Regions from separate parts of the Homo sapiens genome. Here region 2 is linked to region 1. Evidence: fine-mapped expression QTL. A gene starts in region 1. The other region holds a variant in brackets. All regions are shown on one strand. Distances are from middle to middle.

Evidence for each region.
Region 2: its variant is fine-mapped to the expression of MRFAP1 in whole blood (TOPMed, PIP above 0.99).

What each region holds. Positions count from the first base shown.
Region 1 is chr4:6,638,789-6,643,788 of GRCh38, reverse strand. It overlaps MRFAP1 (Morf4 family associated protein 1), which reads right to left and starts at 3,104. Exons shown (of 2, transcript NM_033296.3): 1 at 2,531-3,104; 2 at 1,060-2,059. The coding sequence starts at 2,926. The coding sequence ends at 2,543. It overlaps LOC124900653 (a long non-coding RNA gene), which reads left to right and starts at 3,168. Exons shown (of 2, transcript XR_007058007.1): 1 at 3,168-3,269; 2 at 4,759-5,000. RefSeq lists a silencer at 2,067-2,136 and an enhancer at 4,110-4,904.
Region 2 is chr4:6,693,432-6,698,950 of GRCh38, reverse strand. It overlaps S100P (S100 calcium binding protein P), which reads right to left and starts at 5,073. Exons shown (of 2, transcript NM_005980.3): 1 at 4,881-5,073; 2 at 1,781-2,058. The coding sequence starts at 5,018. The coding sequence ends at 1,909. RefSeq lists enhancers at 2,105-2,867, 4,070-4,805, 4,806-5,519. The variant A/G (reference allele first, on the strand shown) is at 3,005.

The DNA.
Region 1 (5,000 bases):
GTTTTGGCAAATGTACGAAATGTAGTTTTCGTGGTTGTTTCCCAGTTCATAATTCTGTCCTATACATTTCTTCTCCCTCCTCTGTGTGGAACTCACACAGAAAACCTTGAACATCTTCCATTGTTTCCTGTGCCTAGCATGCCTCTCCTGCTCTTCCTGACCTCGGAAGCTGTGCTCCTCTTTCAAGGCCAAGCTCTGAAAGAGTTACTTGCTCTGGAAAGCTTTCCTAGACCTCCCCCTCAAGTGTTCTCCTGGGACATTCTATCTTTATTAGTGCTAGGGACACATGGCTTTGTTTGATTTCTACCAACTAGGTTGCCCAGAAAGTGGACTCCAAGATGAAAACTAGATGCACGTTTTTTAGGGATTAACACTTGTGGAAGAGGAGGAATGCAAGGCTGGGACGGGGGAGGAGGTGGGCTGCGTGATGTAATCCTAACAAAAGCCTCAGCAGACCCCACAAGCTCAGAAGCCACCATGTCCCTCAAAGTTGTCCCAAATTGGGGTAAGAGAAATAGCGACCTGAGATTTCCAGCCCATTACTCACTAGATGTAGGCTACCCAGGGAAAAGGGCATGACTTTGGCTAACGCAGCTCTCCTCTGAAAAGGCACTGCCCAGAGGGCTAACCAGCTGAAGGGTGTTTGTCAGCAACACTTCTAGCAGCTGAGGCAGAAAGGCTTCAATCTGGAAGGAGGGTGGGGTATCACATCTCCTCTATGTCATCCCTCACCCTGCAACTGTAATCGCTATATTCCCAGTGCAAGGCCTAGAAAACAATGTTCCAATTGGAAAGACTGAAGGTGCTTTGGCTCTCTGAAGGCAGAGGCCTGGACCACAGGATTACATGTGGTTTCTTCCCACACTAAGAACCAAGTGTGTTTCTTCCTCACCCGGTTCCCAACAGCAGAGAGAGAAAGCTTCCCTTTGATTAGAGACTAAGAGCCTCAGAAACCGTTAAGATGTTCACCCTCCATTTGACAGTGAGAACCATCTGGGAGACAGCAGATTTCATTCTTAAAGGACTAACATTTCTCAATAACCTTTTAGGTCTTTCGTCTTTTCAAGCAAATGAATACTTTTATTAACATGGTAAGTTTTTGTTTGTTTTAACATGGTAGGGTTCTGACCTCAAATATTTGTTAGGTCTGCTACTCAAATGAACTTACAGCTGGACAACGTATGAACCTTGAAGATGCCTCTTCTAGTCCAGTTTAGGGTCCAATGCAGACAGTTCCATACTGTCATCCCCAAGCCCCTCAAGGGCCTTTGCCAATCTTTCATTTTATGCCAAGTCCTCTAAAACGCATCAGGGTATTACATCAACTTGTACAGAATATCAAGATCTTATCTTCTATTTTAGGTTCCATGTCAAATAAAGCTGAGTTAGGTTGTCCAAACAAACTCACCAGACAGGTTACATAAGATAGTGTACCACAACAAATTTAAATTTTGAACAAAACACATCTCTCCTCCTTTGGTCTCACACAGAAATTAAAGTCTCCAAATACAGACAATACTATCCATTCTCCAGCTCTTCTCCAGATTCACGAGTCCCAGCCAGGTCGGCCCATCCACACTCCCCGTTGAAGTCTGGTCCTTTCTTCAGTAGTTGCTGCATGGAGTCGTCTTCCAGAATTAATGCAGCTCCTTCAGCACCTCCAGAGCTGGAGAACTCCAACTGTGAGTCTCATGTGTCACACACAGACCCAAAGTTCCAGGGAGCTATCAGGTCACACAAGAAATAGCAAAGCACCTCAAAAATTTAGAAATAACCACCAAAGCCCGGGAACAAATGTGACTGCTGCAAGAGCTTACAATCTAGGCCCTAATTCCTGTATGTGAGAGCATTTTCAAACAAAATTACTTCCCAAACAAAAACACGTTAACAATCGAAACTCATATTGAGGTCATCAACCACAGACCATAGCAGAAAACGTAGTGTTAAGTGAGACAGAGCATAGACAGGAAAAAAGAGAAAACAAAAGGCTCTCTGGTTTCGGCTTCTCCAGGGTGTCAGCCAATCTCCACCAGTTGACCAGAATCCATTGGCTGGAAACCTAAAGCACAATGGGAAGAAATTCATCATCGAGAGGTTAATCCCAGGCACAACGACCCCCAAACCCTCACGAACGCCACTGTGCAGGACGCCACCTCTTCTGGCCACCACCTGACTCACTCCAGTCTCTAGCAACGTTGACTTGTCCAACGTCTTCCCCGAAAATCCTCTATTTCCACCCCCGCTTGCTGGACGGCCCGGGACCTTGTCCGTTTCTGTTTCCTTGGCGACTCTGAGATTTATGACCCTTCCACTGAACACGCATCACGCCCAAACCCGGCCACTCTGATTATCCCACGCCGCCACCGTCAAAAAACAAAACACGAAGACGGGGCCCAGATCGGCCCTGACCCGAGCACGCCTTTATTCTCCCGCCCCACCCCCGATTCCGGTGCATCTCGATGAAATCATCGCTCTCGAAGAGCGGCCAAGCTGGGGCCGCTCCTCGGCCTGGCGCGGGTGCCCGACTTACCGCCGACCGCGCTCACGACGACTCGCTCTTCTCTATCCGCCGGACCAGCTCCACCAGCATCTCTGCCATCTTCGCAATCTCCTTGGCCTTCTCCTCGGCCTTCTCGCACCTCTTGGCCGCCCGGCCCTCGGCCGCGTCGCCCGGGTTCTGGAGGTGGTTGAGGGCGCTCTCCTCCGAGGCCTCCACCTGCGTTTTGATCTGGATGAGCATATTGTCCATCTCCCACAGCTTGCTCCGGTTCCGCAGGTACGCCCGCCCGTGCTCGCGCGTCAGCGACGCGATGTCCTCGCGCATCTCGTTGATGACCGGGAGCAGAAACTGCTCGAAATCCTCCTCGGGCTCCAGCACCTCCACTTCCTCCGGTTCCGCCAGCTCGACGATGTCCAGGGGCCGCATCTCTTCCCACTGCCTCGGAACCGCAATAGCGATGTCTGTTGGAGAGAGAAAACCGACACTCGCTATGCTTAGCAATAGAGAGCCCGAATATTCCTGAAAACTTTTACCCTTTTTCAACTTTTCTTCTCAGAGAAGCCACGGACAAGCGACTTACGCGCAGAGTAACGGCGAACAAAATGGAGTCCCGGCCGTCAACCAGCGCTCTGCGCGTTGCGGCCCCTTTCACGACACAGCCGGGCCTCTTTACGGTCAGGGGGGCGAGCTGCGGGCGCGCGCACGTCTAGAAAGAGAGGCACCGGCGGCGGCGTCGCGGCCGCACGGACGCGCACGCAGGCACGCGCAGGTACGGGACCGCACGCTCTCGCTCGTTCCTGCTTTCCCGTTACCTCTGTGCGTCACCCCTGTTTTACCCTGTGTTTGGAGGGTGGCCTCTTCTGGGTGTTTCCCTCCGATAGGGCTTCTTGAGCACGCGAGTTTACATTTTTTAAAAAGGCCTCCCGCACTTCCCAGGCGCGGTGGCTCACGCCTGTAATCTCAGCACGTTGGGAGGCGAGGTGGGTGGATGGCTTGAGGTCAGGAATTCGAGACCAGCCTGGCCGACATGGCGAGACCCCGTCTCTACCAAAAATACAAAAATTAGCCGGGCGTCGTGTTGCACGCGTGTAACCCCAGCTGCTTGGGAGGCTGAGACAATCGTTTGAAAACGGGAGGCGGAGGTTGCAGTGAGCCCATATCGCGCCACTGCTCTCCAGCCTGTGCATCAGAGTGAGACTCCGTCGCAAAATAAATAAATAAAATATAAATGAAAATTAAAAAGGGCCTTCCACACTAGAAGAGGAGGATCCTACGTGATAATGCAGCTACCCCAGGTGGACGCTTAAAGCCCCTTCCTTTCACGCAGGGGGACCTGAGTCCCCTCAGCCGTTTTATTTACTTTTTTTTTTTTTTTTTTTGGAGACAGAGTCTGGCTCTATCGCCCAGGCTGGAGTGCAGTGGCACGATCTCGGCTCACTGCAAACTCCACCTCCGGGGTTCACACCATTCTCCTGCCTCAGCCTCGCGAGTAGCTGGGACTACAGGCGCCTGCCACCGCACCCGGCTAATTTTTTGTATTTTTAGTAGAGACGGGGTTTCACCGTGTTAGCCAGGATGGTCTCGATCTCCTGACCTCGTGATCCATCCACCTCGGCCTCCCAAAGTGCTGGGATTACAGGCGTAAGCCACCGTGCCGGGCCTTATTTACTTATTATTATTTAAAAAGTTTTTTTTTTTTATTGAGGCAGGGTCTCGGTCTGTCGCCCAGGCTGGAGTCCAGTGGTGGGATCATGGCTCACTGCAGCCTTGATCTTCTGGCCTCAAGTGATCCTTCCACTTCGGGCCTCCCAAAGTGCAGAGATTACAGGCATGAGCCGTGCGCCTGGCCCTTTCTGCCTTTTTAAAGAGTAGTTTTCCTTCTTCCTTGGATGACAGTCAGAAGGGTCTGGGTGTCTTTTCACCAAACCGGCCTCCCCACACCCCAAGGTGGAGCCTGGCTGCTCCGTCCTGAGGCCCCAGCAGACCCATGTTCAGTGTGTGGTGCAAGGCGCTGTCCAGAGCCTCTGAGCCCTTCCACTGGATCCTAGGCTCTTTGGGGTCTTAGCTCTGTGGCCTTAATGCCCTAACGCCCTGGGCAGAGCTTGGCGCATATTGGTAAATTTGCCTTAACATCCACTCAACACAGAATGAGGAGAGATACGTTAATTTCCTAGCTTGTTGTCCCATTCCCAAACATCAATAAACTTTTCAGAAATCCAGCTTACATAAATCCCATGGATTTGGCTTCCATTTTCAAGGTAAAGGGACACATCACAGTTTTGACTACAGCAGAATTAAGGATTCAGAGAAACGTAAGTATATGTTTTGTTTTGACTTTTCTCAGGTTCTTAATATTTTGGTTGCTCTTGTAAAAACCCAACTTTGGGGCTTGTGTGAAAGGAAAATAAATCTTGGGACCCCATAATCACTAAACCAAAGGGGACAGTCAAGCTGGGAACTGCATCAGGCAAACCTGCCTCCCATTCTATTCCTAAAAAAG
Region 2 (5,519 bases), 55 kb before region 1:
CCCTGTCTCTACTAAAAATTACAAAAAATTAGCCAGGCTTGGTAGCAGGCACCTGTAGTCCCAGCTACTCGGGAGGCTGAGGCAGGAGAATGGCGTGAACCCGGGAGGTGGAGCTTGCAGTGAGCTGAGATCACACCACTGCACTCCAGCCTGGCCGACAGAGCAAGACTCCGTCTCAAAAAAAAAAAAAAGATTGCAGTGAGCCACGATAGCACCACTGCATTCCAGACTGGGTGACAGGGCAAGGCCGTCTCTCAAAGGAAAAAAGAAACAAAGATTTCCATTCTGGCAGTCCACCCCTTTTGTTTCCCCCATTATTAACTTTACTTCTCCCTCATTATTAGTTTTTACTTTATTTAAATGTGTGTATCTGCTCCCATCTAACCTAACACGACTCTCTCTCTAGCAAAAATATTTGCAATCTGCAGTCCCTTCCCCAAAGAGGGATCCACCCAAGCCTCGTATTGTTGTGTCCACCTCCAAGTTCAGGATCTTTTGGTGATAGATCTTCTCTAGTGAAAATGTCTTCAAACATAGCAAGAGGCTTTAAATACTGGGTATCCAAAAAATGATAGGGGTCCTAAAACCAGATCCAGTTACCTACCTATCATCCAAGACCTCGCTTGAGTCCTTTTGGGTGCTCCCAACATTAGTGTCGTAAAACTAAATACAGGTGATGTGAGCAGTTGTTCACTGATGATTCTAATGCTCTCTTGGAATTCATTGTTTCTCTGTTATGGTGTTTCATAGTCTTTGTGGCAAAAATAGCATTGCATCATTAAAAGTATGTTACTGTCTGGGCGTGGTGGCTGAAGCCTGTAATCCCAGCACTTTGGGAGGCCGAGGTGGGTGGATCACGAGCTCAGGAGATCGAGACCATCCTGGCTAACACGGTGAAACCCTGTCTCTACTAAAAATACAAAAAATTAGCCGGGCGTGGTGGTGGGCACCTGTAGTCCCAGCTACTCAGGAGGTTGAGGCAGGAGAATGGCGTGAACCTGGGAGGCGGAGCTGGCAGTGAGCCAAGATCGCACCATTGCACTCCAGCCTGGGCAACACAGTGAGACTCCGTCTCAAAAAAAAAAAAAAAGAAAAAAAGATATGTTACTTTGCGAGGCGCAGTGGCTCACACCTGTAATCCCAGCACTTTGGGAGGTTGAGGTGGGCAGATCACCTGAAATCAGGAGTTCGAGACCAGCCTGGCCAACATGGTGACACCCCGTCTCTACTAAAAATACAAAAAGTAGCCAGGTGTGGTTTTGCGGGTGCCTGCAGTCCCAGGTACTCGGGAGGCTGAGGCAGGAGAATCACTTGAACCCAAGAGGCGGAGGTTGCAGTGAGCTGAGATGGCGCCATTGCATTCCAGCCTGGGTGACAAGAGCGAGACTCCGTCTCAAAAATAAATAAATATTAGAAGTATGTTACTTGAAGAAAACATGCTGTTTGGAGAGATGGAGGGGCCCAGGTTCAATGAGTGGCTACGTGACCGACTAAATGAATTACGAAGTAGATGAATAAATACATGGATGTGTGTACCCGAGCCTCCCTTGGGTCCAGGACATGGTGGCATTCACACGGCCAAAGGTGGGACTGTGTCTCAGTGGGCACTCAGAAGATGGCCAACAAATGGATTTTTATCGACTGCCTTGTCTTCTTCATCTGTCTCACCACTGCAGGCAGGCAATGAGTAATGAAATGACAAGTTTAATTAGTGAATTCTGTTTTGTGGGGAGAGGACACTGAGGTTTTAAGGAAATAACCAGTTTCTCTGAGACCAGGATCATTTCATAAGCATTTATTAATCAGAGGTACATGAGCAGGCTCAGCCTAGGGGAATAATTGCCAACAAACACTTTTGGGAAGCCTGGGACCATGGCTCTGCCAGGAATCTGTGACATCTCCAGGGCATCATTTGAGTCCTGCCTTCTCAAAGTACTTGTGACAGGCAGACGTGATTGCAGCCACGAACACTATGAACTCACTGAAGTCCACCTGGGCATCTCCATTGGCGTCCAGGTCCTTGAGCAATTTATCCACGGCATCCTTGTCTTTTCCACTCTAGAGGAGAGAGAGGCTCAAGGTCAGCAGTGAGGGTGCCTGTGCAGGGCCTCAGCCTCCACCAAGCACTGCTGCTGGGCAGGAGCAGGGCACCCACATCTGCGTCACCTTTGCTGTCAGGGCCAGGGCCAGCTGTGCATAGCAGACACATGGCATTCCTGGCCTTAAGAACTTGTGAGCTGCCTTCAGCTATCTGGCATGACATGAACTAACTTGTAATGTTTTTAGAGCGAATTGGAATTGTGCTCTGCGAGAGGGAGTTTCATTTTGAGTTTTTGCCGGGGGTTGTCTTTGGATTTGTAAAGTGCTTTACAGTGATGGTTGTTCTCAGGAAATGCATCCAGTCTTTGCTCTATTTTTTGTGCACTGCTAACTTCATGGGCCTCCCATCTCGTGCTGGCACTGAACTAGCTGCTTACACAAACAGGAACTCCTCAACACCACCAGACACGGCAGAGGCATCGCCCTGTTACAGATGAAGATGATAAGGCCCAGAGGGCCCAAGGGACCTGCCCTGAAGTCACACAGGGAGCCGGGGAAAGCCAGGGTTGAGCCCCAGGTGTGGAGCGAGCATGGAGCAAGCACCCTGAGCCCTGTTCTTCCTCTCTGCTTGGGTCCCAAGCTCTCAGGTCTTCTTTGAGAAGGCCAGGCCGGCAGGGCTCTCAGAGCCTGCCCATGTGATAGCAAAGCGTTCTCACTGTGGGACCAAGCGGGACCAGGATGCAGATCTGAACAGCAGCAGCAGGGTGTGCTGATGACCCAGCCCTGGGCCAGAGAGCTGTGTGTCCAGGTGGAAAGAAACACAATTAAAATTGGTAGAAACATATCATCTGACCAAGACACAACTGTGTGCATGAAGACCTTAGTGACAGCATGGTTTGCAATAGCAAAAGTAAGGCAGGGAAGTACAAATTCAATAGCAAACAAATAGTGGTATGGCCATGTC[A/G]CAATACCCTGCGGCCATTTCAAGTGATGTTTACAAAGTTTGTAGGCAGACAGTCACCTCGTATTTACAAAGCTCCGACTGTGCGGGGCGCTGGGTTGGGCACGGAGCAGATAGGGCCAGAAGGCCAGCCCAGCCCAGCCCTGCCCTCAGGCGGACATTGTTCTCTGACTCCGGCTTTGCTGGGCTTCAGCAGCCTCCGGAGGGAGGGCTGAGAAGGGCACCCAGGGCCTCCCCGAGGTGATTCTAATGTAACACATTAGCTGGACCCCCAGCTTTGCCATTGCTTCTCAAAGTGTGTTCCCAGGACACCTGTGCCTGCCCCTCCCCACACCCCAGTATCTTGGATCAAAGTCCTCATGGGTTCAATTCTCATACTTTGATCATTATCAGAACACCCCGAGCCCCAAGCCCAAGTTCCCAGGATGGGGCTGGGGTGTTTAATGAACATCAGAGTTTGAGAATTTATGTTGTAATGTTAAGCTCAAAAAGAAATTACATTGCATGTAAATCTCACTCACAGCAATGTTCATATGGGGAAAAGGCTGGAAGGGAGAGGAAGCGTCTGTATTCCAGGGGGGATTTCTTCCCTCCATATTTATCTATTTTTACATTTTCTACCAAAAACAGAACTTTATTTTTAAAAGATATCTTTACAGAATTCACATTTAGAAAATAGAACTAGGCCAGGTGTCGGGGCTCACGCCTGTAATCACAGCACTTTGAGATGTCGAGGCTGACGCATTGCCTGAGCACAGGAGTTTGAGACCAGCCTGGGCAACATGGTGAGACCTTGTCTCTAAAAAAAATACAAAAATTAACCGGGTATGGTGACATGCACCTGTAGTCCCAGCTACTCGGTAGGCTGAGGTGGGAGGATCACCTGAGCCCAGGGAGGTCGAGGCTGCAGTGAGCCGTGATCCTGCCACTGCACTCCAGCCTGGGTGACAGAGTGACATCTTGTCTCAAAAAAAAAAAAAAAGAAAAGAAAAGAAAATAGAAGCAATATTCTGAAGTGTTTCATGTCTTTGAAGTGATTCTAGGGCTGAAAATTTCAGGCTTTCATTTTTGATTATCAGCATCTATGTGGGTTAGCCCCTTAGCAGGTAGGCAGAGTCTGGTGGGGCCCGAAGGGGAGGGGAAGGAAGGAAGAAAGTGGGGGAGTGAGAAAGAAGGAGAGGACAGGGGTCAAAGGGAAGGGGAAATGGAGAGGGTACGGCTTCTGTTCAGCCCAGCCGGAGGCTGCCCCGGGCGGAAGGAAGCTGGTCCTGGCCGCCCTGAGGGGCCTTCTGTGAGGCTCAGGCCGGTGGCTCCTCCCTGGCAGGGAGCCCAAGGGAGGTCCACAGCTCTGCGCAGACAGGTGCCAGGATGGAGCCTCCTCCCGTCCTTCCTGCCAGACCCACTAATACCAGGCAACAAGGGGCCTGGGAATGGGAGCAGGGAAAGCGGGCAAGTGGGAGGCAGAGCTGGGGCGTTTATGGCCGGCAGCCTTGGAGGACAGCCCCGAGGGCTCAAGGGCTTGGCAAGCTTGGCAAACTTGCAAATGGCAGCCCTGGATTGCATTCCGCCCCTGCCCCCACTGCACAGGTTTGAGTCCCACTCTCCCACCAGGCCTGTCACAAATACACTGGGGTCAACCCCATGTTTCAAGGATCAAGCTGACCACACCCTCTCCCTGCTCAGATGCTCCCGCCTCCCCTGCCTTTATGCCAGGGTGGGTCCGTTCCTTGGCTGGGCTTCCAGGGCATTTCAGGATCTGTCCCTCTTGCCTCTGAGCCCCTTGACCGCCGACCCCACCGCAGCTCTCAGCCCTCTGCCTGCCACGCCTTCCCCTTCTTCCCCAGCCCCCGCTGAGTCCAGCACTGCCGGCCTGGCTCACCTGCAGGAAGCCTGGTAGCTCCTTCTCCATCAGCACCTTGAGCTCCCCCTTGGTCAGGGTCTGCGTGCTGCCCTCGCTGCCCGAATATCGGGAAAAGACGTCTATGATCATGCCCATGGCTGTCTCTAGTTCCGTCATGGTGCTAGATTCAGACCCACCTTCCTCCTGGGGGCTGGCAGGGCCGAGAAAATGTCCCACTGGCAGCCTCTTGGTGCTTTATAAGGCAGCCTCATATTGACACAGAGGGTGGGACAGTGGGGTTGGGACATTCAGGAAGTCCTGCCCCTCCCCATTCATGTGCTCAGTTCTGATGAAATGCATCGTTGTGATGACGTTTCTGGAACCTTTCCCCCAGCCAAGGCCCAGGGTGTGGGCTGCCTCCAGGCATCCACATTTTACAGTGTTCACCTGTGTCTCGGCGCCATCACTGAGCCACAGTGGCATCCTCATTCCTGGCCCTCCCTGGGTAAGTGGGCACGGGGTGAGTGTGTGTGGAGTGAGTGGTGACTCCGTGGCCCTTTGTGTCAATATCAGAGCGTGCTGGCACCCAGCGTGCTGACACGAGGAGACATCTGAGAGTGAATTCACATGGGCGTGTTTGTGAACATGGATCTGCCCCATCGTCCCTTTCTTAGAGCA